Linked DNA regions of Homo sapiens: regions 1, 2, 3 and 5 are each linked to region 4. Evidence: fine-mapped expression QTL. A gene starts in region 4. Each other region holds a variant in brackets. All regions are shown on one strand. Distances are between the middles of the regions. Region 1 overlaps ACTL6B (actin like 6B). Region 2 overlaps CYP3A43 (cytochrome P450 family 3 subfamily A member 43). Region 3 holds the start of SPDYE3 (speedy/RINGO cell cycle regulator family member E3). Region 4 holds the start of LRCH4 (leucine rich repeats and calponin homology domain containing 4). Region 5 overlaps AGFG2 (ArfGAP with FG repeats 2).

Region 1 (5,920 bases), 64 kb before region 4:
CAATTTTTTTTTTTTTTTTTTTTTTTTTTTTTTTTTTTTTTTTTTTGAGACGGAGTTTTGCTCTGTCACCAGGCTGGAGTGCAGTGGTGCGATCTCAGCTCACTGCAAGCTCCGCCTCCCGGGTTCAAGTGATTCTCCTGCCTCAGCCTCCTGAGTAGCTGGGACTACAGGTGCGTGCCACCACGCCCAGCTAATTTTTGTATTTTTAGTAGAGACGGGGTTTCACCATGTTGGCCGGGATGGTCTCGATCTCTTGACCTCGTGATCCACCGACCTTGGCCTCCCAAAGTGCTGGGATTACAGGCGTAAGCCACCATCCCAGCCCTGTGTTTGATTATATTTGGTCTGGTTTTCTATCTACTTAACAGTGTGAACCCTAAATCATTCATCAATTGTATCTTTTGTCAAGACGTCAATTCCATTAGATATTTTATCAATTTCTTTTTTTTTTTTTTTTTGAGACATAGTCTTGCTCTGTTGCCCAGGCTGGAGTGCCATGGCGCGATCTCGGCTCACTGCAAGCTCCACCTCCTGGGTTCTCCTGCCTCAGCCTCCCGAGTAGCTGGGACTACAGGTGCCCACCACCACATCCGACTAATTTTTTGTATTTTTTTTTTTTTTTTTGAGATGGAGTCTCACTCTGTTGCCCAGGCTGGAGTGCAGTGGTGCGATCTCGGCTCACTGAAAGCTCCATTTCTCCTGCCTCAGCCTCCCAAGTAGCTGGGACTCACACCATTCTCCTGCCTCGGCCTCCCAAGTAGCTGGGACTATAGGCACCCACCACCACGCCCGGCTAATTTTTTGTATTTTTAGTAGAGGCGGGGTTTCACCGTGTTAGCCAGGATGGTCTCCATCTCCTGACCTCGCGATCCGCCGGCCTCGGCCTCCCAAAGTGCTGGGATTACAGGCGTGAGCCACCACACCTGGCCTCTCATCAATTTCATTTCTTGAAGAAATTTCTTCAGGAGCCCACTGACCTGGTCCAGTTTGCACTAGTAGCCCTCTGCCAGGGGACAGACCTGTCATGCTGGCATCTTCCTTCACCATCATCTTGTAGAATCCTTTTGCCTCTGTCCTGGTTAGAAGTCCTGTTTCCTGTACTTGACTCCTTTTCTTGACTTATTCCTTTGTTTTCATGGAGCAGGTCCTTCAGTAACTGCCTTAGAAAGGTCATGAGAGGCCAGAGACAGTGGCTCACTCCTGTAATCCCAGCACTTTGGGAGGCCTTGAGTCCAGGAGTTTGAGACCAGCCTGGGCAATATACTGATACCTTATCTCTACCAAAAATATAAAAATTAGCTGGCCATGGTGGTGCATGCTTGTAGTACCAGCTACTCGGAAGGCTGAGGCAAGAGAATTGCTTGTACCCAGGAGGCAGAGATTGCAGTCAGCCTAGATCATGCCACTGAACTCCAGCCTGGGCGACAGAGTGAGACTCCATTTAAAAAAATAATTAATTAAATAATAATCTAAAAAAAAACTTTTTTTTTTTTTTGAGATGAAGTGTCACTCTTGTCCCCCAGGCTGGAGTGCAATGGCGTGATCTTGGCTCACTGCAACCTCCGCTTCCCGGGTTCAAGGATTCTCCTGCCTCAGCATCCCAAGTAGCTGGGATTACAGGCACCTCCCATCACACCTGGCTAATTTTTGTATTTTTAGTAGAGACGGGGTTTCACCATGTTGGCCAGGCTGGTCTCAAACTCCTGACCTCAGGTGATCTGCCCGCCTTGGCCTCCCAAAGCGCTGGGATTACAGGCATGAGCCACCGCGCCCAGCATCTAAAAAAAAAATTTAAAATAAGGTCATGGGAAGTATATTTTTTGAGACTTTTGTGTGTCTCACCTTGAGTTGATAGCTTAGCTAGGTATCCCATGCCAGGTTAGAAATCATTATTCTTCAGAATCTTGAAGGCACTTTTCCATTGTCCTTCTTCCAGCATATATCGTTGCCATTTAGAAGGATGAAACCATCTGATTTCTGATCCTCTGATGTAATGTTTTTCTTTCTGAAAGTTTATAGAATTTTTACTTTATCCTCAGTGTGGTGTATTTTCATTCATGGCTCTAGGCACTTAGTATGTCTCTTCATTCTGAAAACATATGTCTTTCAATTCAGTGAAAAAGAATTATTTATTTAATTATTTATTTCTCTCCATTTTCTCTCTTGGGATTTTCTGTTATTGGATTTTGTTGCCCCCTGAATTGGTCCCCTAATTTAATTCCCTTTTCTCTTATATTTTCCATCTCTTTACCTTTTTCCTTTGGTTTCCAAGATATTCCCTCCACTTTATGTTCCAATCCTTCTATTGAGTTTTTCATTTCTGTTCATGTAGTTTTAATTCCCACAAGCTCCTTACTTTAAATTTTTTTTTTAATGAGACAGCATCTCACTATGTTGTCCAGGCTAGTTTCGAACTCCTGGGTTCAAGCAATCCTCCTGCCTCGGCCTCCCAAAGTGCTGGGATTATAGGCGTAAGCCACCCTGTCTGGCCTGTGCAAATGTTTTAAATGCATGTGTGTGTGACTGTGAGTGTGAATATATGTGTATGTGTGTGTGTGAGTTTGTGTGTGAATGTGAGTATATATGTGTTTGACCGTGTGTTTGTGAGTGTGTTTGCATGTGTGACCGTGAGTGTATGTATAGTGTGAATGCATGTGTGTGTTTATGTGTGTCTGTGAATGTGAGTGTATGTGTGTGTGTTTGAGTGTATGTGTGTGTGTGTGCAAGTGAATGCATGTGTGTATGACCGTGAGTGTATGTGTGAGTGTTTAGGTTGTGTATGTGTGTGCAAGTGTTTGGATGTGTGTGTGTGACCGTGAGTGTATGTGTGAGTGAGTGGGTTGCGTGTGCGTGGATGTGGGTCTGTGCCTCTCCCTTCCTGA[A/G]TCCTCCCCCTCTGCACTTTCTCCACAGTGGAACACACGGGCCAAGCGGGAGAAGCTGACAGAGCTGATGTTCGAGCAGTACAACATTCCTGCCTTCTTCTTATGCAAGACGGCTGTGCTCACCGCGTATCCTCTGGACTGAGCTGCTCTGACTGGGTGGAGGGCTGGGGTGGGGCCTGTGCTGAGCTCAGCTGTGATGAGCTGGAGGGTCAGGCCTGGTTCTCTGAAGATCAGTGTCCCAATGGGCAGACACCTCCCTCTGCCCCACTAGTGCAGAAGGCCCAGTGGACTGAGCACCTCCGACTCTGGGGTGGCCAGATCAGCGGCCCCTTTCGGTTCCCCGGATCAGGCTGAGCAGACAGTGAGCTGGGCCCGGGAGAGAGTAGGGGCTGGAACTGGACAGAGGAGGGAGACGTGTAGAACACTGCGGCAGTCCCTTCCCAAGAACTCCTTCAACACTGACTGTTTTTAGGATCTGCCTTGCATTGAACCCTGTGCTATGCACTGGGGTGATAGCGACCCTAATTTCAGGGAATCTGTAGGACACAACCAAAAATAAAGGGGCTGGCCAGGCGCGGTGGCTCACGCCTGTAATCCCAGCATTTTGGGAGGCCAAGGCGGGCAGATCACTTGAGGTCAGGAGTTAGAGACCAGTCCGGCCAACATGGCAAAAGCCCGTGTCTACTAAAAATGGAAAAATTAGCCAGGCATAGTGGTGGGCACCTGTAGTCCCAGCTACTTGGGAGGCTGAGGCAGGAGAATCTCTTGAACCCAGGAGGCAGAGGTTGCAGTGAGCTATTGCATTCCAGCCTGGGCGACAAAACGAAACTCAGTTTCAAAAAAAAAAAAATAACTAAAGAAGTAACTGGGGTCGCCGGGTGTGGTGGCTCATGCCTGTAATCCCGGCACTTTGGGAGGCCGAGGCGGGCAGATCACGAGGTCAGGAGATCGAGACCATCCTGGCTAACACGGTGAAATCCCATCTCTACTAAAAATACGAAAAATTGGCCGGGCGTGGTGGCAGGCACCTGTAGTCCCAGCTACTCGGGAGGCTGAGGCAGGAGAATGGCATGAACCCGGGAGGCGGAGCTTGCAGTGAGCTGAGATTGCGCCACTGCACTCCAGCCTGGGAGACAGCAAGACTCCATCTCAAAAAAAAAAAAAAAGAAGTAACTGGGGTCTCAGAGCCTTTCTCCAGGAGATGAGTCATCACCAGGGGGAGAGATTTGCAGACTGGGGATGGGCTGGACCCCGGTAGAGCAGAGAGTGACCAGACAAGATCTGGGCCCAGGCCCCTCACTTGCTGCTGCTGTCTCTTTGACTTACCCATCCGATGCCAGCTTTGCAAACGGGCGGTCCACTGGCCTCGTGCTGGACAGTGGAGCCACCCACACCACGGCCATTCCAGTACATGACGGCTACGTTCTGCAGCAAGGTGGGGCTTCGGCAGGGGGTGGGGGTGCTCCAGGAGGACCAGGTCCTGACAGTGCCTTCCTTCTAGGCATCGTCAAGTCCCCTCTGGCAGGGGACTTCATCTCCATGCAGTGCCGGGAGCTGTTCCAGGAGATGGCCATTGACATCATCCCACCTTACATGATCGCAGCCAAGGTGGGGCCTCTGGGGACATGGAGCTGCCACTAGAGTCCTGGCCACTCGCCCCATGGCCGTCAACCCTCTGACACATGAGATATCAGAGCAGAGAGCAGCAGGCTCCCCAGTGGGTCCTGGCTCCAGTTCCTCCTTTTATAATCGAGGCATCCGAAATCCAGACAGGCTGAGGGATATGCTGAGGTCATGAAACCAGCTGGCAGACAGCAGGATGTGTGAGGGCCAGTGTGGTGGGTTCTAGGGTCCAATATAGACCCAGGTTCAAGTTCTGCCTCTGCCGTGCAAGAGCTGCAGGACCGGTCAGGCATGGTGGCTCACACCTGTAATCCCAGCACTTCGGGAGGCTGAGGCAGGCAGATCGCTTTGAGCTCACTTCGAGACCAGCCTGGGCAACATGGTGAAGCCACGTCTCTACTAAAACTGCAAGAACTAGCCAAGCATGGTGGTGCATGCCTGTAGTCCCAGCTACTTGGGAGGCTGAGACTGGAGAATCACCTGAACCCCGGAGGCAGAGGTTGCAGTGAGCCGAGATCGCGCCACTGCACTCCAGCCTGGGCGACCGAGTGAGACTCCATCTGAAAAAAAAAAAAAAAAAGAGCTGTGTGACCAACAGCATGATATCAAAGCTCCCTGGGCCTCAGGTTTGTCTTATGTAAAGTGGAACGGCAGTAGGCAGTAGCCAGGGTGCTGTGAGTATGAAGTGACACTGTGTGCTTAGCTCCATTCCGTGCCCTCACATGGATCATGACCCCCTAGGAGGCCATTCCCTTGAGGTTCTGTCACTGCTGTATTCCTGGTGTTCTCCAGATCAGCTGCACCCACCGCATGAAAGGCACACATGGAGAGAGAGGCATGCCCCATTCTCTCTCCTCTCCATCAGGGAAGGGTGAGAAACCCCTCTTGCAGGCAGCACAGCAGAGCCTGCAGCGCCAGGTAGCTGCAGAGCTGGGAACAGTGCCAGGAAGGTGGGGGTGGGGGTCAGGTGGGCTAGGAAAGGGTGTTCCTACACTGTGCCCCCACAGGAGCCTGTCCGGGAGGGTGCCCCCCCAAACTGGAAGAAGAAGGAGAAGCTACCCCAGGTCTCCAAGTCCTGGCATAACTACATGTGTAATGTGAGCCTCTGGAGAGGGCCACCTGAAACCCCCCTCCCCTGCCATGAATCGGGGGCGGGACAGAGGCCCCGCATGGGAGGGGGAGCAGGGAGGGGGAGCGGGGCAGGGGGTGCTGCTCACGGGGAAGGCAGGCCCTCACCACCTCCGCTGGGATTTCAGGAGGTGATCCAGGACTTCCAGGCCTCCGTGCTGCAGGTCTCAGACTCCCCCTACGATGAACAGTGAGTGTGGCTCAGGGCTTTGGGGTGGGAGAGAGGGCAGAACCGGCACTCTTGGGGTGGGCTGGGGGGCTCTGGTGCTGCCCACGCACTGATCCTT
Region 2 (5,920 bases), 720 kb after region 4:
ATGATCCAGGCATCATGAATTTTTGAAGCTCCCCAGTGATTCCAATGTACAGCTAGTGGTTGAGAAACACTGTCATGAGAAAGCTTCTGCAAGTTCTAGTGAGTTCTAGTGGAGGAGAGCACCATTCGAAAGTCCTGACAAAGTAATCATTGCACTTCATGATTGTGCAAAAGACTTCCTCATCTTTACAGTTGACATGAAACTGAATTTAAAATTTGCTCAAGTTCACAGAGACTGAACATAATTATACCATGCTAATCTATATTGACATTAGATGATCTTTATAGTTCTGTCTTTACAAAGCCACAGATTTTGAACTCCAGAAGTGATTCATCTTTAAGCATTATGGATAGCTCCAATTAGATTCTTTGTCCTACAGAGCAAATTATTGAAAAATGAACAATAATTTTTAAAAAATGTAGACTTCTCAGTTTAAAAAACTCCCAATAAACATTATTTATAAGAAAGTTTACTGACCTGAGTCTCTTTACAAGGTTTGAAGGAGAAGTTCTGCAGTGCTCTAATGACAGCAAGTTTTATGTTTGTGAGAGCAAACCTCATGCCAATGCAGTTTCGGGGTCCAGCTCCAAAAGGTATGTATCTGTAAAGATCTATGCTGTCCTTGTTCTTCTTACTGAACCTACTTTCACAGTAGTACATAAAAACTAGTTAATGAAACATAAAAACTATTAAAACTACACGTTATGCAGGGTGTGGTGGCTTTTGGGAGGCGAGGACCTCCTTGGCCTCCCAAAGTGTTGGGATTACAGGTGTTAGCCACCACACCTGGCCGGCTATACAATTTTTGAAGGTTAAACCCATGTTTATTCAAATTTGATTCCTCAATATTTGATTATATTGTGAAAAAATTTTGATGGAGGAAAGTGATAATGCCCTTGTGGTTATGTGTTTTTAAAAGACTACTTATATTTTAGAGAAAATTCTGAAATATTTACAGGTTATTTCTTCAAGATAACATTGTAGTCACAGAGAGGATTGTGGTGGTGTGTGGACAGGGAAGCTGACATGCAGCATTGACTACTGAGACAGGTGATGAACACAGGGGGATGCATTAATACTGTTCTATAGCCTGGTGTCTATAGAATATAGTTATGTGTATGTCAAACATTCTTCACAACAGACTTTTTTTAGTATATGGATTTCTCACTGCCTGGCCCAGTTCCTGACACACGGTAACCACTTACTATCTGTTTGGTGACTGAATGATGCAAAGAGAAGTACAATGAGTGGTCTCTGATTTTGTGTTGGTGCAGCCACAGGAGGTGGAAGTGCCAAGATGGAGGAAACACAGAAGTCCTCTACTCCAGAAAACAGAGAAATTGGTCAATTCTGACTTGCTCTTCCAACAAGTATTATGTACAGAGTCTGTGCCAGCAGTAGAGACAGCATGCCTAACAAGACAAGGTCCCTGCCATTGGGAAGTTTATAGTTAGGGGCCAATAAAAGTCTAGATCCCAGGCCTCACCAGCCAGTGCCCTACAAAGTTCATTCCAAATTTTCCTTTCCAAAATGGGAAAATATCAACTATTTCCAGAGTGCAAATTGTGCCCAAAGCTTGACCTTGGCTCTGAATTCCCAGAATATCATGCCCAACACTTCCAAGGAAGAACTTCTGAGAAGTCTAGAAAGCAGGTGACTTTGCTTTGGAAGAGTCATCAACAACTGAGAGTACAAGGGAGCCGGCACAGGACTGCAGACACAAACAGGACCAGGAGAACCTCTGCTTCCCTCTGTCCTCAATGAAGTGGCTTAAACCATCAGGGATGAGGATGTCTCAGGATCTCAGCCTGCACTTTCACAGTTACATTACGGAAAACAGCAAGCAATGTTGAAAGAAAAAGGAATGTGGAAACATGTCCTAAACGTGGTGCTAAATTCAGAGAGCTAAAGGGCACAGCAAAGAAAAACTGAAATGAATAACAAGCTTATATACTCAAAATAACATTATGGTGAAATGAATTATAGCTTATGCATATAGAAATATGTAGTAACGTAAGATAGTAGATAGGTAATGGTTTACTTTGAAATGAAGTAAGCAGCAGTTCAAACTCAAATAAAATGTGATAGTATACTAGTTTTTAAAAATGTCTATGCATAGAAAAATGCCTACAAGACAGGCATTACATAGTTAATGAGGGTTGTTATAAGGTGTTTCTTAATCTATGGTTTGTAAAGTTTAACAGTTATCATTTTGTAATAAAAAACTTCCAAAATGAAAAGGCACATATTCAAATGATTGCCATGTGCATCGAGAGAGGCAGAATATACTTGAATCAGGCTGGTTGAGGGAAGGCTCCTTTCCCAGGGGCCTTGTACCTTTCAGGGCAGAACTTCTCAGGCTCTGTCCAGTACTTTGGGTCATGGTGAAGAGCATAGATTGGAACCATCACTGCTAACCCTTTGGGAATGAACACTCCATTGATTTCAATATCTTTCTTGCAGACTCTCGTAACTCTACTAACAACTGGGAATAATCTGAGCGTTTCATTCACCACCATGTCAAGGTACTCCATCTGTACCAGGGCATCGTAGGTGACAGGTGCCTGGGAAGAAAGAAACAGATTTGGATAAATTGAGATTGGGAATTAACTTTCAACTTAGTCCATGCAGTACTATTGAAGTGTTAGGAGCTCCAGAGAATAATTCATTCTGGTAAAAGATTGTTGCATTTATAAATTATTTTAATAATTCTCCATACCCAGTGATGTGCTCGATGGCCCATTGAGATGTGTGGAGGAGTTATGAATTTGGCACAATCACTTACACAGAGACTGAAATCCTTGACATTACCATTTCGTGTTTTTTCTTTCTTGGGAGAACAAACATGACTAATAGACGATGGCCATTTGAATCACCTAAAATATGCCAAAGCCAGTGTCACCTTTCCAAAGAGAGGCTATGCATCTGTACCAAGGAAAAAGAAAATGTAAAAAGCAAATCCTCTATTTCATACAAGCATTTAAAATGGAAAAGTCCTGTTTAGGCCAGGCATGGTGGCTCATGCCTATAATCCCAACACTTTGGGAGGCCAAGGTGGGTGGATCACTTGAGGTCAGGAGTTTGAGACCAGCCTGGCCAACATGGTGAAACCCTGTGTCTACTAAAACTATAAAAATTAGCCGGGCATAGTAGCGCACGCCTGTAATCCCAGCTACTCAGGTGGCTGAGGCACGAGAATCACTTGAACCCTGGAGGCGGAGGTAGCAGTGAGCCGAGATCACCCCACTGCAG[T/A]CCAGCCTGGGCGACGAAGCAAGACTCCATGCAAAAAAAAAATGTGGAGAGTAACACTATGTTATATAAAAACCCTATAAATAGTTTGGGGATAAACTAGTTCTTTTGTAACCCAAATATGACAAAAGAACTTTATAACTGGACAGGGCACACAATTTCAGTGCTACTGAGAGTTGTAAACAGGATAGGAACCCTCCGGGCAGCCCCATCCTGTCTTTCTCGAACAATTTCCCACTTGTTCCTTCAGGCCTGGACTATGAACTTAGATGAACATTCCTTTGTGTTCACCTCACTGCCAAACCAGGGCCAGCCCCAAGGCCAGATCTCGTTACACCATAAAGAATTCCAATTTGGGCAGAATTCTGGAAACAGTGTGGGTAATACGTGGCTAGCATTTGGTGTTATATTTGGAAGGTAATATTGTAGAGGTTAAATGTTTGGCCCAGGCGTCAGGCACCCTGGGTCCTAGCTTGGCTTCTTCACCACTAGCTACTTGACTGGAGCAGAGAGAGGTGTGAGGCAGAGCTGAGTCAGCCTGCCCAGCGCACCCAGGGCCAGGTTCCATCAGACCACTGCCAGACCACAGCGAGTCCAGCCAATATCAGCAGAGCTCACTATCCAGACTTGTGAGCAATAAATGATTGTTTTTAGTTGTCATTGAGATTTCTGGATATTTTTTACTTGGTGTTATGTTGCTAACAGACAACGGATGCAGCAGGACCAGCACTGTTTCACAAAGATCTTACACTTACGCAAGAAGCATCCACTACCTACGATTCTCCCTTTGTTTTTACTCTTTACAGCCTTTCTGCATAGTGTAAATGAAAGAACTGATGCTTACGCTTTTTGCAAAAATTGTCCTGGCAAGTGGTGAGGAGGCATTCTTGCTGAGGCTTCACCTTCTCCCTCCTTCTCCAGGGGATCATCCCCTTACCTTATTGGGTAAAACTGCGTCAATCTCCTCCTGCAGTTTCTGCTGGACATCAGGGTGAGTGGCCAGTTCATACATAATGAAGGGGAGAGTGGTGCTAGTTGTGTCATAGGCAGCAAAAATGATGATAATTGACTGGGCCACAAGCTCCAGATCAGACAGAGCTGAAAGGAGAGGAAATATATTTTAGGAAAAGTGGTTAGTGTAGAGCATCACAGTTTAGATGAAGCAAAATTCCAGTGAAGCTCCCAAATCCCTAAGAGCAAAAATAGAAAAGCAATTCAGAGTCACACTGCGGGTGGCTTCACTCTGATGTGTATCCTACAGAGCCAGAATAAGGCAAAGTCACTTTAATCCAGTTTTTTTTCCAGGGTCTACACGATTGTGGGCCATTCACTCCTCATCATACCATCCCCACCAGCTGCACAGCTGGGTAACTTTCAAAGAGAGCATTTCTGTCTAACATACTCAGTGTTATAGGGATGTCCCTTGGATAATCATAGAAGTTCTTTATCTATAAGTAAACGTGGAGTAACATTCTCCCCAGGGAAGATTTAAATTACTCTAGCTACAATATAGCTTGACAAACAATGAGACAGTTTGCAATACTAAGGCTTGATTTTAGGGAAATATAAAGGAACTTTTCTCTAAGCATGTTTGCGGGAACCCAAGGGAAGAATATTGGGCTCTTGCCACTCAAAATGTGGTCCATGGACCAGCAGCACCAGCAGCATCTGGGAGCTTATCAGAAATGCAGAATCTCAAACCCTACCCTCAAACTGCAGAATCAAAATCTGAACTTTCATGAGATGTGGTAATTTGTGAGCCCAGCATGGCTTGAGAAGCATGGATTACATCTTTGAGTGACATCAAGTAATAGAGTTCCTAGGGCACTAGTCTTCAAAATGGATGACCTCTGGATATACGAAAGCTACAGAGACAAAAATCTAGAAGTGAGGTGATTGACTGTAGTCCAATGAGTGGTTTTAATAAAACAGGCTGGGCACAGTGGTGCAAGCGTGTAATCCCAGCACTTTGGGAGGCTGACACAGGAGGATCATTGAGGTCAGGATTTTGAGACCAGCCTGGCCAACATGGTGAAACCCCATCTCTACTAAAATTACAAAAAAACCCACAACTGGGTGTGGTGGTGGGCACCTGTAGTCCCAGCTACTCGGGAGGCTGAGGCAGGAGAATTGCTTGAACCTGGGAGGCAGAGGTTGCAGTGAGCCAAGATCAGACCACTTCACTCCAGCCTGGGTGACAGAGTGAGACTCCATCTCAAATAATAATAATAATAATAATAATAATAATAATAATAATAATAATAATACAGCAGGAAGAATGCATGTATAGATGGGCATTGGCCAACATGAAATATAAAAACAATAGGGTCTAGTGAGTGGAATTCATAGTGCCTATTCCATCCTGGCCCGAATAGCATCTTCCTTAGTACATGCCCATTCTCTCTGCTCCACTTCATGCTCACCGAACAGCATTTATGACTACAGGTTTGCCTCCCTCTTGATATTTCTCCCAAGAAAAGCTTAGCACAGTCAGCCATTGGTCTGTTTGATCAGGACTGGATTAAGAACTTTAGAGACCTAGGGTACTAAAATAAATATGGTGCCCACTCCAACCATGTATTTCATAACTGAAAACAATACAAGATGAGTGTGAGAAAGGTCTACAGAGTTGTGATTTACTGGTGATAATTTTCATGATGATGTTGTGGGT
Region 3 (5,920 bases), 280 kb after region 4:
TGTCTCCTAAGTGTCCCTCATGAGTGATCACTTCAGAGTCCTCCCGCATGGAGAGCTCACCCACTGGGGCATATTTTTCCCATTGGAAAAGTGTGGTTATTGGAAGTTTCCTCTTTTTAGAAAGAACAGGATTGGAGGTGCTCTCTGGGGTGTCCTCCTACCAAGCAGCCTGTTGAAGGCCTCGTAGTACTCAGGGAGCACGAGCGACACTCGCCGTCGCTTCGCCTTCATCTTGAGGCCACACAGCGTCTCCGCCACCCAGGTCTCCTCAGGCTCAGGGGCGAGCTCCTTCTCTGGCTCATCATCAGATTCATCCAAACACTCCCTCTTCCTTTTGCAGCCAAGGGACCTACGTGGGGGGCTGGGATCTACCCCAGGGGCTGAGTAAAGAAACCAGGCCACCGTGTAATGCTTCTGCAACTGATCACGTTAGACCCCGACCCCAAACCCCAAACCACTCTCCATCCTCCCCAGCCTCTCAGACTGCTGGCTTCTCCAAGCCACCTTTCTGACTTTCTCCTCTGCTCAACCCCATGTGCCACTCCTTCCCCTCCCCATTCTTCCCTCTCTCTGTCCTCAGAACACTGCGTCATATCGTTCCCTGGTCCCTGGCTCTCTGAGGCCCTCTTTTTTTTTTCTGTTTCGAGACAGAATCTTGCTTTGTCACCCAGGCTGGAGTGTAGTGGTGCAATCTCAGCTGACTGCAACATCTATCTCCCGGATTCCAGTTATTCTCCTGCCTCAGCCTCTCAGGTAGCTGGGATTACAGGTGCCTGCCATAATGCCCAGCTCAATTTTGTACTTTTAGTAGAGACGGGGGTTTCACCATGTTGGCCAGGCTGGTCTCAAACTCCTGGCCTCACGTGATCCACCTGCCTTGGCTTCCCAAAGTGCTGGGATTACAGGTGTGAGCCACTGCACCCAGCCTGAATTTCTCCATTCTTCCCACACACCCTCCCCAGGTTCTCCTTCCTGACCTCTGACCCTTCTTTTTTTTCTTCTTTTTTTTTTTTTTTTTTGAGACAGCGTCTCACTCTCTCACCCAGACTGGAGTGCAGTAGCACGATCTCGGCTCACTGCACCCTCTTCCTCCCAGGCTCAAGCGATTCTCCTGTCTCAGCCTCCCGAGTAGCTGGAACTACAGGCATGAGCTACTGTGCCCAGCCTTGGTTTTTCTTTTGACGCAGAGTTTTGCTCTGTCACTCAGGCTGGAGTGCAGTGGTGCAGTCATAGCTCACTGCAGCCTCGAAGTCCTGAGTTCAAGCAATCCTCTTGCCTCAGCCTCCCAACGTGCTGGGATCTCAGGCGGGAGCCACAGCGCCTGGCCCAAAACCAAGCTTTCTTATCCCAAGCACCGACCTTTATCAAGTCTACCTAATCCTCTGTTGTCTCCTAAGTGTCCCTCATGAGTGATCACTTCAGAGTCCTCCCGCATGGAGAGCTCACCCACTGGGGCATATTTTTCCCATTGGAAAAGTGTGGTTATTGGAAGTTTCCTCTTTTTAGAAAGAACAGGATTGGAGGTGCTCTCTGGGGTGTCCTCCTACCAAGCAGCCTGTTGAAGGCCTCGTAGTACTCAGGGAGCACGAGCGACACTCGCCGTCGCTTCGCCTTCATCTTGAGGCCACACAGCGTCTCCGCCACCCAGGTCTCCTCAGGCTCAGGGGCGAGCTCCTTCTCTGGCTCATCATCAGATTCATCCAAACACTCCCTCTTCCTTTTGCAGCCAAGGGACCTACGTGGGGGGCTGGGATCTACCCCAGGGGCTGAGTAAAGAAACCAGGCCACCGTGTAATGCTTCTGCAACTGATCACGTTAGACCCCGACCCCAAACCCCAAACCATTCTCCATCCTCCCCAGCCTCTCAGACTGCTGGCTTCTCCAAGCCACCTTTCTGACTTTCTCCTCTGCTCAACCCCATGTGCCACTCCTTCCCCTCCCCATTCTTCCCTCTCTCTGTCCTCAGAACACTGCGTCATATCGTTCCCTGGTCCCTGGCTCTCTGAGGCCCTCTTTTTTTTTTTTTGTTTCGAGACAGAATCTTGCTTTGTCACCCAGGCTGGAGTGTAGTGGTACAATCTCAGCTCACTGCAACATCCATCTCCCGGATTCCAGTTATTCTCCTGCCTCAGCCTCTCAGGTAGCTGGGATTACAGGTGCCTGCCATAATGCCCAGCTCAATTTTGTACTTTTAGTAGAGACGGGGTTTCGCCATGTTGGCCAGGCTGGTCTCAAACTCTTGGCCTCACGTGATCCGCCTGCCTTGGCTTCCCAAAGTGCTGGGATTACAGGTGTGAGCCACTGCACCCAGCCTGAATTTCTCCATTCTTCCCACACACCCTCCCCAGGTTCTCCTTCCTGACCTCTGACCCTTCTTTTTTTTCTTCTTCTTTTTTTTTTTTTTTTTTTGAGACAGCGTCTCACTCTCTCACCCAGACTGGAGTGCAGTAGCACGATCTCGGCTCACTGCACCCTCTTCCTCCCAGGCTCAAGCGATTCTCCTGTCTCAGCCTCCCGAGTAGCTGGGATTATAGGCACACACCACTACCGCCTGGCTAATTTTTGTACTTTTAGTAGAGATGGGGTTTCACCATGTTGGCCAGGCTGGTCTTGAACTGCTGACCTCAGGTGATCTGCCCGCCTCGGCCTCCCAAAGTGTTGGTGTTACAGGGGTGAGCTACCGCACCTGGCCCCCTTCCTTCGTCTTAGTCAATCCTATGCCACCTCTTCTTCCTCCAGTCCCCTCACCTGATGGTCCCGACACTTCATCATCCACCACCTCCTGGAGGGGGTACCCTGAGGTGCTCCGCTGGGGGCTCTGCTCTTCCTGGGGCTGCGGTTGATGGCTCGTCATGATCTTTCCCAAAATCTGTCCAATCTCACCGAAGCTAGTCTCTGTTCTGT[C/T]CTTGGTCTTCTTCTGGACACTGCTGGGATCCAGAAGAGTGTGTTATCAATTCTCGAGGCTGGGAGAAGTCAGGAGTGGAGAACAGCTCTGAGAAGTTACTGTTGTTCACCTGAACTGCCAGGCGCCGACAGAGTCCGGTCCTTCCAATCAGGAAGGTCGGAATCTCTGATGTCATAGGTCATTCCAACCTGGCAACCAGTTTGAACAAAAACACATGTAACTGCCAGGCTGATCTCTTGTCCTGGAGATCCTGGGTGAATGGTATCTCCTGCCACTGTCCCAACCTCAGACCACTGTCCAAAAGCATCTTCAGGGTCTCCGCATCCCTCTGTTCCCTGTCCCAGCAGAGGCTGTGTCCTCTCCACTCAAAGCTTGAAGCGTGTTGGGGTCTCCTCTTCTCTGTACATGCCCGTTTCAGAGTCCAGTCTGGTGGGAGAGGGATCAGGATGGGAAAGAAAACTAGGGTAAGCAGAAACGATGAAACCTTATAAGAGTGAGAGTATCATGTACAAGAGATCCCAGGAACATTGACTTGATGAAAAAGTCACATCAGAGCACTCAATTTGGCAGAGCTTTTCTGCCGAATGTTTACTGATATTCACTGTCCGAGATTCTGTACTGGGTGTAACGTGTCCTCTGCCCTAAGGCATCTTTGAGTCCAAGAGATATTTTGAGGACTGGAAATCATCGGAAACTGCCCATGAGCTCACACATATTTCCAATGGTGTCCCCAGTTTCAGGGAGTCCACGGATCACCTAAAGCCAGCCCCTCCAGTTTGGCTAAGAAACTCTATATATCAAGTTTTGTATCATATGTATTGCTCTTAACTCAGAAATTCCACCATTTATAGCAGTGGTTTATTTATTTATACTATTGAAGGAAATGGTTTATTTATGAATCTATATTATGGATATTCTATAAGATACTGGGTGTACAAAAAGACTAAGTCGAAAAATCTCAGCTGTGCACAGTGGCTCATGCTTGCAATCCCATCTCTTTGGGTGGCCAAGGGAGGAAGACTGCCTGAGGCCAGCAGTTCAAGACCAGTGTAGGCAACATAGCAAGACCCCATCTCAAACAAAACAAAACAAAACAGAACAAAATTAGCCAGGTGTCGTGGCTGGCACCTGTGTTCCAACAACTTGAGAGACTGAGGTGGCAGGAGGATTGCTTGAGCCTAGGAGTTAGGGGCTGCAGTGAGCTGTGATCGTGACACCGCACTCCAGTCTGGGCAACACAGCAAGACCTTGTGTCAAAAAAATTTTTTTAATTAAATATAAAAGAGTTTCATGACATTCAGAGACCATCCAAAGAACCTGTGGGTTCCGGCCAGGCACAGTGGCTCACGCCTGTAATCCCAGCGCTTTGGGAGGCCATAGCAGGTGGATCGCTTGAGGTCAGGAGTTTAAGAGCAGCCTGGCCAACATGGTGAAACCCCATCTCTTCTAAAAATACAAAAAATTAGTCAGGCATGGTGGTGGGTGCCTGTAATCCCAGCCACTCAGGAGGCGGGGGCAGCAGAATGGCTTAAACTTGGGAGGCGGAGGTTGCAGTGAGCCAAGGTCGCACCATTGCACTCCAGCCTGGGCAACAAGAGCAAAACTACATCTCAAAAAAAAAAAAAAAACAAACAAAAAGAACCTGTGGATGAGTTCCCACATGGCTTCCTAACGGGCTGCGGCTCTCCTAGGAGTCTCTCGCTCATGGGAAAGGCACAAACTGAATGTGGAAGGAAATCCCATTGCTGTGGAAGTCCCATTGTTAGGAAGCTCTGCTTTTCTGGAGTTCAAATTTGCATTCATGACGCTTTAAACCGTCAGAGCTGGGTGTGTCCTCCTACAACAAATCACTTTACTCTCTCTCTCTCCTAGTTAACAGGCTTTCAAATATTAGAACATCCATGTTCTGACCTCATTAAAATTGCTCTTTTGTGGAATGAAAAGCTCTGATTTAACCCGTCTTTAAGCCTGGTATGCATATTCCTCTCTGTTCCGGCCACCTTGTCTAGACACACTACACTGAGGCAGTGCCCATCTTAGATGATGTTGATACATTGTCAAAAAATGGGCAAACCAGGCGCGGTGGCTCACACTTGTAATCCCAGCACTTTTGGAAGCCGATGCCGACAGATAACCAGAGGTGAGGAGGTTGAGATCAGCCTGGCCAACATGGTGAAACCTGTCTGTTTTTCTGTAAAAATACAGAAACAATGAGCTGGGTGTGGGAGTGCACTTCTGTAATTCCAGCTACTTGCGGGGCTGAGGCAGGAGAATCACTTGAACCGGGATGGTGGAGGTTCCAGTGAGCCGAGATCACGACACTACACTCCAGCCTGGGCGACAGAGTGAGACTCCGACTCAAAAAAAAAAAAAAAGTGCCAGACAGCCCAGGTTTGGTCTGATATGTTCAGAAAAAAGCAAAACAGTCACCTCTCACCTTTTCTTTTCCTGCAATGATGCCGTTTAATACAACAATGGCTGTAGGTCTGCGGCAGAAATATCATTCAAGTGAAACAGAAGGGCTTTCCTGGCTGGACACAGTGGTCACTCCTGCAATCCCAACACTTTGGTTGGCTAAGGTGGGAGGATTTCTTGCGGCCAGGAGTTCGAGGCTGCAGTGAGCTGTGATCTACCACTGCATTCCAGGCTGGGCATCAGAGTGAGGCCTGTCTCTAAAAAAAACCCTTCACTCCCCAAAAAAAGGGATTTTCAAATACCAGCCTTTCAGCATGAGGATCACATGGAGGAACATTAAGACACAGATGCTGGGACCCAGCCCTATTGATTGTAATTAAAAAACTGAGGTGAGGCCTGATTTAGCTCCATCATTGGAATCCATTCAGATTTGAAATTCTCTGAGTTGGACAGTGCAAGAGAGATCCTAAAGAAAGCAAAGTCACCGTGGACTGAAATGAGCTGACAAGGTTTTCTGAGCGTGGTGAAATATGATCTGGGCCTTGCTTGGGAGGGCTGTGGCCAGGCCTTGAGTCCGTGGCTCAGTGGGACCTTCTGAAA
Region 4 (5,920 bases):
CCCCTGTAGTCCCAGCTACACAGGAGGCTGAGGCAGGAGGATTGCTTGAGCCCAGTTTGAGGCAGCAGTGAGCTATGATCGTGCCACTGCACTCCAGCCCGGGCGAGAATGATACCCAGTTTCAAAAAAAACAAACAAAAAAGAAGACTGCTTTTGCTTTCCTGAGGGACAGTAACATCATTGCATGTATAAAGGACAACCTATTAAGGTGGGAGAAAGGGATGGATTTCCTCTGAAAGCTTAGGATTTCTCCCAGGGTCTCTGATATTAGCTTTGTCTTATGTGGGGTGACATTTATCAGGAGAAACAGCAGGGGTCAGGGTTGTGTCTGTCCCACTCAGGCCAGATCTACACCAATAAATCCAAGGAGTGGCTGGCTCTTGCAGGGGCTCAAAGGAGTCCCATCCTGCCAGACCACCAGCCCTCACCACACAGTGTCACAGATCCGTTCATTGACTGCACCAGACTGACCACCCAAATTCCCTTATGTATGGTGCCTAGCCATGGCTAGGCTGGGATGCCTGAGATGGAATTTTAATTCTTCAGCAACTACTCAGGAATATCAACCTCTGAGATGTGAACTAAGGAGAAAGCAACTTCAGTGACTTATTTCTGGGCAACCTACCACATAGGGAGGGGACTGCATTAGGGACTCATGCCACTTAGAAAGGAAGATCTCCAAGTAGACAGAAAGGTATTTTCCATTCCTCTTGCATTTGGGTCCCCTTTATCCACTCCATTTCACCCCAGGAGGCAAACGAGAGGTTGTGAATAGAAAAAGTCCACTGTGGGCCAGGCTTTGTGGCTCACGCTTATAATCCCAGCACTTCGGGAGGCCGAGGTGGGAGCATTGCTTGAGCCCAGGAGTTTGAGATCAGCCTGGGCAACATAGTAGGACCCTGTCTCTACAAAAAATACAATTAGCTGGCATGGTGGTGCGTGCTTGTAGTCCCAGTTACTCGGGAGGCTGAGGTGGGAGGTTGAGGCTGCAGTGAGCTGCGATCAAGCCACTGCACTCCAGCCTGGGCAACAGAGCGACTCTGTCTCAAAAGAAAGAAAAAGTCCACTGTGGGCCGGGTGCGGTGGCTCACGCCTGTGATCCCAGTACTTTGGGAGGCAGAGGCAGGATCGCTTGAGGTCAAAAGTTTGAGACCAGCCTGGGCAACATAGCAAAACCCCATCTCTACAAAAATTGAAAATAAATTAGCCAGGTGCAGTGGTGCCGCCCGTGGTCCCAGCTACTTGGGAGGCTGAGGCAGGAGGATCACTTGAGCCCAGGCATTCAAGGCTGCAGTGAGCCATGACTGCACCACTGCACTCCAGCCTGGGCGACAGAATCAGACCTTCTTAAAAAAAAAAAAAAAAAGGCCGGGCGCGGTGGCTCACGCCTGTAATGCCAGCACTTTGGGAGGCCGAGGAGGGCATATTGCCTGAGCTCCTGAGTTTGCGACCAGCCTGGGCAACACGGTGAAACCCCGTCTCTACTAAAATACAAAAAATTAGCCGGGTGTGGTGGCGGGCGCCTGTAGTCCCAGCTACTCGGGAGGCTGAGGCAGGAGAATTGCTTGAACCCGGACAGTGGAGGTTGCTGTGAGCCGAGATCGCGCCACTGCACTCCAGCCTGGGCGACTGAGCGAGACTCCATCTCAAAAAATAAAAAAATAAAAAGAGGAAGGGAACGGAAGGGAGAGGGAGGGAGGGAGGAAGAGAGGAAGGGAGTGAAAACATCCACTGTGAAAACTGAGGGAGCGGGAAAGGGCTGTGCGTGGAGGATCCAGAGACCTGGTTTCTAGAGCAAGCCAGCTGTCAGGAACTTGCTGTTCGCTCTTGCTAACGCATCAACTTCCCTCTGCCTCAGTTTCTGCATTCGTAGCACCAAGGGCGTGTTCTAGGCGGTGAGATCCTTTCTAAGCCTCTAAAACCCCGTGGTCTGGTCCCCTCTCCATTCCTGTCCAGGGGAGCTCCTCGGGTGAGACGGCAGACCGTGCAACGCTGCACCTACACCCTCCCTCCTCGAGCTGGGCATCTCCAGGCTCTGGGAAGCCCCCCGCCCGCCCCCAGCCCGGGGGTCCCGAGACCCCTGCCAGAGGCTTCACAGTCGGAGGTCCCCCCGCTGCCCCTTCAGCTGCGACAACCGCCAGTGCACTGGCCTCAAGCAGTCGCCCGAATCCCCTCAAGCCCTGGACGCCGGCTAGCCCCCTAACACGTCCAGCTCGCACTCGCCACTGCAGCGGCGAACTGCGTTCCCGGCCGGCCAGGGGCTCCGCGTTCATTCTTAACCTCAGTCTTAAAGTTCTAGCTCACCCGCCTCCTCCTTAGCAAAGGGACCGCCTTCTCGCCCATGCTATTGGTAGGTAGAGCCGTCCCTCAGAGAAGAGGCAGGTCCAGATTCCCTTCGGAGGCTCTAATTGGCCTTCTTGACAGTCACTCGCCTGTATCTGGCTTACGATTGGTCTTTGGGGGACGAGGACTAGGCACCCCCTGCTTGCGGTCCCTCGGCCCGTTTTCCTGCTAGTGGAGTGCCGGTGTCCCCTCCTCTTGGTTGGACCTGATTGGCTCCACCTCCCGATCTGAGCATTGTGATTGGGTGCAGCTGCGCTGGGCGGGACGGCCTGGAGCGTCGGCCGTTGGCGAGCGCTCTATCCTTGTTCCCCTCCCTTCTCTCGTCAGACTCCGGCGCCGGAGCTCCACCCCCACTGACGGGTTCTGATTGGCCGCTTCTGACGCGTCTCGGGGCCACGATTGGTCCGTCCGGTCCCGGACACCGCTCCCTCCCCCTTGAGGCAACTACGGCGGCTCCAAGGAGGGGGTGGGGGAAGGAGGGACGGCCGGTCCCGTCAGTCAGGCAGCGGGAGCCGCCGGGAGCGGATGGCGGCGGCCGTAGCGGCTCCACTCGCCGCCGGGGGTGAGGAGGCGGCAGCCACGACCTCCGTGCCCGGGTCTCCAGGTCTGCCGGGGAGACGCAGTGCAGAGCGGGCCCTAGAGGAGGCCGTGGCCACCGGGACCCTGAACCTGTCTAACCGGCGCTTGAAGCACTTCCCCCGGGGCGCGGCCCGTAGCTACGACCTGTCAGACATCACCCAGGCTGGTGAGTGCAGCCGGGCCCCGGGCCCAACCGGGTCCCTCATTTGCATAGCCCCACCCCGGGCCCCGCCCGGCCCGGGAGTCGGGCCCGCCCCTTCACCTGGCGGCCAGGGTTGCTGCCCCTCCTGATTGCCCTAAACCTGCAGCCATCCTCTCCCATCTTTGAGAACCCCCTAGACAATGAACGTGCTTCTCGTTTGCACAGAACGCCCTGCGCCTCCGAGCGTTGGGAGAGATTCCTCCTTTCTCTTTATTTGCATATCTGCGCACCTGTAGGATGGTCCCGCCCCTCACCTGGTTGGCTTATTTACATGATCTCTTAACCTCAGCTCCAATCGGTCTATGAAGCAGTCCCCACGAGCTCCTCTAATAACTGCTTTCTCTCCCTCTTCATCTACACCTCTTAACCCCCGTCCCACCGAGATCCGAGCAGCCCCGGGCACCCCCTTCCCAGTGACTGGCCCCTAAGCCCGAGGTTTCTGCTTTCTGTGCCGCAACCCCGCCCCCTAAGGTCCTGGCCCTCTCCACTGTCCACGCAGCTCTCCAGCCTATGGGAAAGAAACAAATCTCTACCTCCCCTCACTCTTTTCTCCCTGAGCTCTTCCGCCTATTATCCCCAACCGGCTTATCTGAGATTCCTCCTCCTCCTTCCTAAGCCTGTGAGGTCACTGTGGAGCCTGTGACCTCATAGGGATCTTAGAATTCCCATTTCAGTTTCTGCTTTCCCCCGGGGGAGGGACTTGAGGCCGTTGCTGGAGGGAAGGAAATCTTATCTCCTAGCTGGGAGTGCTGGCCAGCTAGAGACTGTCCTTCCACGCCTCCACCCGCAGGATCTGTCCAACCATGCACCCTCCACCCTGGTGTCTGTGGATGGTAGGGGGTGGGGGACTTAACTGTGACAGGTGAGTCAAGCCTCAGCTACTCAGGAGGCAGCCTATGACCTTGGGCCGGCAGCTGGGGGTGGGGATCAGGATCAGGGAGGAGGACTGCATTCCCGAAGCCTCACCCCAGCCCAGGCCTCTTCCTCCTCTCATCTGCACGGTGGGGGACCAGAGCTGGAGGATAGTGCTTACTTCTCCCTAAGCAGGTGCCTGCTCACCTGGGAACACTCAGGCCGGCACTGGCACACATCCTCTTCCCTCTTCTGGGGAGAACCAGTCGAAACCTCCCCACTGATCTCGCCTGCTCTGCAACACTTGAGATGGGGAATGAGTGAGCTCCAGGAGCCATTCCTGCCCCTTACAGCCCTGTTCCCTCCCACCCCCACCTAACCCCACACTCCAGATTGACCTCAGCAGCTGTGTGACACTCACTGTCTGTTCCCTTCCCCTCCCCCTTGGTTGTTTTTTGACAAAGACCAAATGTTATTCTTTACTTCCTTAGGCTGTCTCTCCCTGTGTGGACTCTTGGGGAAAACTACCCGGAGCTCCCCGGCCCCTCCCAGCTCCCGCCCCCGGCCCCCTCCTCCCCCAGCATTCCGGCTCAGGGTGCAGCCGTGCTCCTGTGAGCTTGGGGGGGGGTCGGAAATCCCAGCTTCCCAAGAACCCTCCTCTGCCCCACTCTCTACACAGGGCCCAGGTTCTAGGCCAAGTGGGGTCCCTCTTGTCCAGAATTCTCTCCTCTGTCCCCTCTCCGCAAGCAGGGACAGAAAGGGGAAGTGACAAAAACATACAGTTGCCCATACCCTGCCCTCCATCTCTCCTCGCCCTCCAAGCAGACGAAAAGCATCAGTGCCTTGCTGCCCGGACTGCCTTGAGCCTTCCCCTCCCGTCTCCCATCTCTTTCTGAGTGTCTTCGCTGCGTGTCGCCTAGTCTTGGGTCCCTGATCTCCCTTGGACTAGGCTCCCTGGGGTGATAGTAGGAAGAATCCTGAGGTGGCGGGGAGGGGCCATCTTGCAAAGGAGAAGTGCAGCTCATTCTCTCCCAGACCACATCCTGTGCCCCCAGTGCCCTGCCTCCTGCCTGAGCTCCCTTCCGCTCCTAGCTTTTGTCCCCGCCACCGCCTACCCCATCAGAACTCTGAGAACTCGGTCTCCACCCCCTTCGTCCACATGCACACACACAAACACATTTGCAGAGAAAGCGGGCAGGTGGAGGCGAGGCTGGGAGGGGCAAATGCCATCCCCCCACCCTCTCCAGAACGGTCATCTCTGAGGCCAGGGCTTCTGTCTGTGCACCAGGGCTGGGCAGAGAGGAAGAGAAAGGGGTCCCGGGGCATCAGGCTGTCATCCACCCTGGTAAACACGGGGCCTACCAGAGCCAGAACCTGACAGATTGTTTCTACTTCATTTCCTGTCACAAGACTCATTTCCTTGGGGGATATACCCGGCTTCTCTCCTCTGCTTGCTTTTGCTGGCCTGCCCTTCCCTGAGAAGGGCCCTTGGAGAAGCTCACCAGGTCTGTGGCCTGGGACTCCGCCTCGCGGGCCCTGGGCCCCTCCCAGGACAGGCTGGGCCGAGGAAACAGAAAGGCAGGCTTCTCCAGGTCTAAGCCGTTAGTGGGTCCGTGCTACAGGGAATCCCAAGGCTGCCAGCCTCCGCATAGCAAGGCAGTGCTCCAGATAAGAGGGCGATTGTAGACCCCAGGCCCTCCCACACTCTCCACCCTCGCCGTGCCTGAGATGCTCACACAGTTGCTGATCTCTTGAAGTCTGTGTCAGTAAGAGAGGAAGCAGAGCCGGGCTGCTAGGGCTAGCAGAGGGTAGGAAGGATGCCTGCCCTGGGCCAGAGAAGCCCAGATGGGAGGGACCTGGGAACTCCAGCTCCCATCTCCAACCAGGTCTTCTTGCCCTTCCCTCCCAGCCCTTGGGAATCAGTAACTTTATGATTCTTTGGAC
Region 5 (5,920 bases), 33 kb after region 4:
ACACGCTCATCCTCTCCTGGAGCTGCTTCTCTTTGTGCTTTGCTGCTTTGAGCAGTTCTTTAGGATAGTGAGGATATGAATGGTGATTTATAGACATGAACAAATGGACACGGTTGGAAGAGAAAGGAAGCCAGTGGGGCAGAGTTTACCTGCAGGAGTTGGCTGGGCCTGGAACGAGGCTTGACCAGCTGGAGGGAGGCTTCCAAACACAGAAGAGCTGGGGCCACTGCTAAAGGCATCAAAGTTGGCAAAGCCTCCTTGGGAAGGTGTCTGGCCTGTAGGTGGAAGAAACATAAAGGTTATATAGAAAATTGTCGGGTGTGGTAGCTCACGCCTGTAATTCCAGCACTTTGGGAGGCCGAGGTGGGCAGATCACTTGAGGTCAGAAGTTCAAGACCAGCCTGGTCAACATGGTGAAATCTGTCTCTACTAAAAATATAAAAATTAGCTGGGCGTGGTGGTACATGCCTGTAATCCCAGCTACCTTGGAGGCTGAGGCATGAGAATTGCTTAAACCTGGGAGGTGGAGCTAGCAGTGAGCCGAGATTGTGCCACTCTACTCTAGCCTGGGTGACAGAATGAGACTCTGACTCAAAAAAAAAAAAAAAAAAAAAAAAAAAACCACACACACACAACAGAAAAAGAAAAGAAAATGTATATGCCTATCCATGTAATATAGCTACTAATTCTAAAGGCCAAAGGCCACTCTTATGGGACATCTGCCTTTCCACAGGGTTCTCTTCAGAGGGAAATGGGTGGGGCCTGGGGCCAAGAGCCAGACCCACACAGGGGAACAGGGGCACCCAGGGCCTCCAGGTTCACTCCCTGCCCTCTTCTGTCCTTACTCCATGAGGCATTAACATTTTTGTCAGGGCCTAGTTTGGAGCATGAAAATTTTTTTTCATGGAGGAAGGAGCTTGAATTTTTTTTTTTTTTTTTTTTTTTTTGAGACGGAGTCTCACTCTGTCACCTAGGCTGGAGTCCAGTGATGCAATTGTGATTCACTGCAACCTCCACCTCCTAGGTTCAAGCAATTCTCCTGCCTTAGCCTCCCAAGTAGCTGGGACTACAGGCACATGCCACCACACTTGGCTAATTTTTTTTTTCTTTTTAGTAGAGATGAGGTTTCACCATGTTGGCCAGACTGGTCTTGAACTCCTGACCTCAGGTGATCTGCCCACCTCAGCCTCTCAAATGCTAGGATTACAGGTGTGAGCCACTGTGTCTGGCTTGAAAATTTTTAAAAAGGGAAAACAGATTCTATGCTGCTGAACCCTCTACTGGCTATTGCTGATTTGGGGGAAGAATAATCTTTGGTGAACTGGAACACATGATAATCCCCCTCCTCCCATTTTAACAGAGACAGAAAATAATAAAAAAGGCTATTTCCAGTGTTCTAAAAGGAAGTGCTAGGAGCCCTCAACTATAATGTTTTAGGATCAAACCCCCAAACATAATCCTGGCTGTACTTATTTGACCCCAGTCCTCCCAGCCTCACTGCTTCAGAGTGACCCTCACATTTGTTTGCATGAGAAGATCTAGAGCCATGGTTACCTCCAGGGACTGGATCTCTCATGTTGTAAGCATATACGCTGTAGGGAGGGTCCCATCCCAAAACCCACTTACCCCCAAAGGCAGGGAATGCAGCAAAAGCTGGTGCCATCTGGGGTGCAGCAAAGGGGTCTCCACCGATGTCAGCCAGCAGGTCAGTACTGGCTTTTTTGACAGAGGAGTGGGGAGGTGGCTGAGTGCTCCGGGCCTGGGATGTCCGAGCGTGAGACTGACTGACGGGCTTGGAGGAGAAGGAATGCATACAGCCCTTAGAATCCCAGACATGCCCCAGGCCCTCCTCTGGCTCCCCAGGTTGCCCTCAGATAGGCAGGTAGAGAGAGAAGACAGTGAGTAACTGCCCTCAACCTAGAAGATTCCTGGGCAGGAGCTGCCTTAGCCCCTCTCAGAGCTCATATCATCCTCATCTTCTCAGTACACCTGCTCCAAGAACCACACATTTTACAGCACATGAGCCAAGGTAACCCTGAGATATACAGGAATACTGCCCAATACTGCCCCCAGGGCTGTTACTCCTCAACCTTCCCAGGTATTGGACACCATATTCCAGCCCCTTCTGTGTTTCTTTGATGGAATGCTCAGGTTTGGAGCTGATATTCTGACTTTCCTAAATACCACTTCCTGTTAGGTTCTGACTTCCAAAAGATATGAGGTCCAGAAGTGACAAATACAAGATACAGGTTAACAGCAGAGCCGAGACCCAACTCACAGCTCCTGCACTGTTGTCTGCTAAGTCCGGGGAATCTGATTCAGGAAACTGACACTCCTGTCTCCCAAATCTCAAAAGAAACATGACGAGCAGATCTGAGAGTTACCTGGCTCGAGGTGGAGGCAGCAACTGAGAGAGACGGTGCAGGATCACCCAGAAGTGTCCGAAGGGGCTTCCCTTCTGGGATGGAGCCCTGCACAGGGGTGGAGGCACTGCCTTTGGTATAAGTGGGCCCCTTGACTTGGTCTGGGGGGACATACCTTTGAGAAAGAATAGTTAGGCTGTAAAGAGAGGGATAAAACTTTGGACCACGCTCAGCTGAGATGTTTGGGAAGACACAGGAGTCAAAATCTATGCTCATTTTTCTCTACTGATTCCCTTTTTTGAAGGGAACCGAGCAACTTAGCAAAGTTCTGCCTATCTTGAGCATCCCCTTGAACATCTTTTGGTTTTTTTGAGACAGGGTCTCGCTGTTGCCCAGGGTGGAGTGCAGTGGGGCAATGTTGGCTCAACACAGCCTTAACTACCTAGGCTCAAGTGATTCT[C/T]CTGCCTCAGCCTCCCAAGTAGCTGGGACCACAAACAAGTACATGCTACCATGCCTGGCTAATTTTTTAATTATTTGTAGAGAAGAGGTCTCACTATGTTGCCCAGGGTGGTCTCAACCTCTTGGCCTCAGGTGATCCTCCTGCCTTAGCCTCCAAAGTTCTGGGATTACAGGCATGAGCCACCACACCTGGCAAAGGTCCCCCTCTTTTATTTCCTGGGTGTTTCTTCAGACTCCTTCTTCTCAGCTCCATAGAAAAGCTGCCTGCCGCCTCATCCTCTAGGTGCTCACAATCCACACTTCCATCCTGCCAGCTCCTGCCGGGACAATTCCCTTCCACTACAGTGTATGTGGCCCCTACTCTGTAAGTGTCAGCTTAATCCTGAGGACATCCCTAGGAGGGACTCCACAGTGTGGTCTTATCCACATCAATCTCTTTGTTCTCTGCATTCTCTTCTCTACCTCACAGTTACCTCCCAACATGTACACACCCCAGAGATCCCACAAGAAGTGATACCAGGGGAGAGGAAAGGTAAGGGAGAATGGAGATGCTGTTTCCTTCATCAGGAAGACAAAATATAGTTGTCCCATGGTATCCTCAGGGAACTGGTTCCAGGATCCCCCTGACAATTCCATAATCAGAGGACGGGACACTCAAGTCTCTTATATAATATGGTGAAGTATTTGCATCAAATATGTATATCCTCCAATATACTTTAAATCATCTCTAGGTTACTTATAATACCTAATACAATGTAAATGCCATGCAATAGTTGCTATATTGTATTGCTTTTTATTTGTATTATTATTTTTTTTTTGAGACGGAGTTTCACTCTGTCACCCAGGCTAGAGTACAGTGGCACGATCTCAGCTGACTGCAACCACTGCCTCCCGGGTTCAAGCAGTTCTCTGCCTCAGCCTCCTGAGTAGCTCGGATTACAGGTGCCCATGACCATGCCTGGCTAATTTTTTGTATTTTTAGTAGAGACGGGGTTTCACCATCTTGGCCAGGCTAGTCTTGAACTAGTCCTGACCCTGTGATCCACCCGCCTCGGTCTCCCAAAGTGCTGGGATTACAGGCATGAGCCACCACACCTGGCCTTATTTGTATTATTTTTTATTGTTGTATTGTTATTTTTTGTGTTCCCTACTTTTTTTTTTTTTTTTTTTTTTTTTTGAGACAGTCTCTCTCTCTTTGCCCAGGCTGGAGTACAGTGGCATGATCTCAGCTCACTGCAACCTCCGCCTCCTGGGTTCAAGCAATTTTCCTGCCTCAGCCTCCAGAGTAGCTGGGATTACAAGTGTCCACCCCCACACCCAGCTAATTTTTTTTGTATTTTTAGTAGGGACGGGGTTTCACCATGTTGGCCAGGCTAGTCTCGAACTCCTGACCTCAAGTGGTCTGCCCACCTCAGCCTCCCAAAGTGCTGGGATTATAGGCGTGAGCCACCTTGCCTGGCCTATTTTCCCAAATATTTTTGATGTGAGGTTGATTGGATCCATGGTTGCAGAATCTACAGATACAGAGGGCTGACTGTACATATAAATCATGAAACAAGGCCGGGCACGGTGGCTCACGCCTGTAATCCCAGCACTTTGCGAGGCCAAGGCAGGCAGATCATTTGAGCCCAGGAGTTTCAGACCAGCCTGGGCAACGTGGTGAAACCTCATTTCTACAAAAAATATAAAAATTAAGGCCGGGCGCAGTGGCTCACGCCTGTAATCCCAGCACTTTGGGAGCCAAGGTGGGCGGATCACGAGGTCAGGAGATCGAGACCATCCTGGCTAACACGGTGAAACTCCGTCTCTACTAAAAATACAAAAAATTAGCTGGGTGTGGTGGCGGGCGCCTGTAGTCCCACCTACTCGGGAGGCTGAGACAGGAGAATGGCGTGAACCTGGGAGGTGGAACTTGGAGTGAGCCGAGATCACGCCACTGCACTCCAGCCTGGGTGACAGAGCGAGACTCTGTCTCAAAAAAAAAAAAAAAAAGAAATATATATATATATATATATATATATATATATATATAAATTAGCCAGGCATGGTGGCACACACCTGTAGTCCCAGTTACTGGGGAGGATGAGGTAGGAGGATCACCTGAGCTCCAAGAAGCTGAGACTGCAGTAAGCTGTGACTGTGGCACTGCACTCTAGCCTGGGCAACAGAGTGAGACCTTGTCTCAAAAAAAAAAAAAAATCATAAAATGATGGGTTAAAGGAATAAAACTATAGGATGTGTGCTTCCAGCCATCTCTCCCCATACATAAGATCAGCTGAGCTATAAAAATGAACACCCACAGGCCTACCTCCCGACTCCAATCAGTCTACTATCTCTCCAAAAGAGAGGACATAAAATCTGCAGGGTTAGTGACTGAGAACAAGTTGTCCTTTCATGTAGATTTATTTTAGCCGTAACTGAATGTGAGTGGAACAGAATCGACCCAAGTCTAGTCTTTTGTGAGAAGGCCAAATTCAACTCTAGAAACTGGACTGTCAGATGAAGAATGTCTTGAACACGTTTCCATAGCAACCTCTTTCCTACTCCTTACCATCTCTTCTTCTCATATTTTTCCTGGAGAAACTCCTTCACTTTCTGAGGATCCCTGGAATCTGGTACTAAAGATGTCCGAGCATCAAACAGACCCAACCAAATCTTCCGGCAAACCTAAAAGAATGAAGGTGTCAGAGGAGTGGGAGCAGAAAGCAGGAAATACAAAAAATACCACTTCCTTTTTTTTTTTTTTTTTTTTTTTTTGAGACGGAGTCTCGCTCTGTCGCCGGGCTGGAGTGCAGTGGCACGATCTCAGCTCACTGCAACCTCCACCTCCGGGGTTCAAGCAATTCTCCTGCCTCAGTCTCCCAAGTAGCTGAGACTATAGGCATGCGCCACCACGCCCAGCTAATTTTTGTACTTTTAATAGAGATGAGGTTTCACCATGTTGGCCAGGATGGCCTCGATCTCTTGACCTCGTTATCTGCCCACCTCAGCTACCCAAACTGCTGGGATTACAGGCATGAGCCACCGCGCCCAGCCACCACTTCCTATTTATTCATCAGTAAATACATATTGGCTGGATGTGGTGGCTCACACCTGTA

Evidence for each region. PIP is the estimated chance that this variant, and not a neighbour inherited with it, causes the effect.
Region 1: its variant is fine-mapped to the expression of LRCH4 in whole blood (TOPMed, PIP above 0.99).
Region 2: its variant is fine-mapped to the expression of LRCH4 in whole blood (TOPMed, PIP above 0.99).
Region 3: its variant is fine-mapped to the expression of LRCH4 in whole blood (TOPMed, PIP above 0.99). The same link has a PIP of 0.9 or more in monocytes.
Region 5: its variant is fine-mapped to the expression of LRCH4 in whole blood (TOPMed, PIP 0.94).

The regions. Positions count from the first base shown.
Region 1 is chr7:100,647,126-100,653,045 of GRCh38, reverse strand. It overlaps ACTL6B (actin like 6B), which reads left to right. Exons shown (of 14, transcript NM_016188.5): 5 at 2,911-3,008; 6 at 4,223-4,317; 7 at 4,384-4,490; 8 at 5,513-5,602; 9 at 5,762-5,823. Among named protein-coding and RNA genes, the nearest start is that of ACTL6B, 6.4 kb to the left of the region's middle. RefSeq lists enhancers at 2,632-3,176, 3,177-3,723. The variant A/G (reference allele first, on the strand shown) is at 2,883.
Region 2 is chr7:99,858,257-99,864,176 of GRCh38, reverse strand. It overlaps CYP3A43 (cytochrome P450 family 3 subfamily A member 43), which reads right to left. Exons shown (of 13, transcript NM_057095.3): 10 at 4,187-4,347; 11 at 2,338-2,564; 12 at 478-640. Among named protein-coding and RNA genes, the nearest start is that of OR2AE1, 16 kb to the left of the region's middle. RefSeq lists a silencer at 3,705-3,905. The variant T/A (reference allele first, on the strand shown) is at 3,253.
Region 3 is chr7:100,304,820-100,310,739 of GRCh38, reverse strand. SPDYE3 (speedy/RINGO cell cycle regulator family member E3) reads right to left here and starts at 3,038. Exons shown (of 11, transcript NM_001004351.5): 1 at 2,749-3,038; 2 at 1,548-1,766; 3 at 162-380. The coding sequence starts at 2,854. The variant C/T (reference allele first, on the strand shown) is at 2,905.
Region 4 is chr7:100,583,049-100,588,968 of GRCh38, reverse strand. It overlaps LRCH4 (leucine rich repeats and calponin homology domain containing 4), which reads left to right and starts at 2,840. Exons shown (of 18, transcript NM_002319.5): 1 at 2,840-3,088. The coding sequence starts at 2,869. It overlaps FBXO24 (F-box protein 24), which reads right to left and starts at 2,641. Exons shown (of 10, transcript NM_033506.3): 1 at 2,305-2,641. The coding sequence starts at 2,343. RefSeq lists silencers at 1,963-2,082, 2,843-3,272, 3,313-3,362 and enhancers at 3,504-4,017, 4,018-4,531, 4,797-4,956, 4,929-5,223, 4,677-5,365.
Region 5 is chr7:100,549,965-100,555,884 of GRCh38, reverse strand. AGFG2 (ArfGAP with FG repeats 2) reads right to left here. Exons shown (of 12, transcript NM_006076.5): 3 at 5,374-5,489; 4 at 2,385-2,538; 5 at 1,627-1,792; 6 at 150-275. Among named protein-coding and RNA genes, the nearest start is that of AGFG2, 14 kb to the right of the region's middle. The variant C/T (reference allele first, on the strand shown) is at 2,824.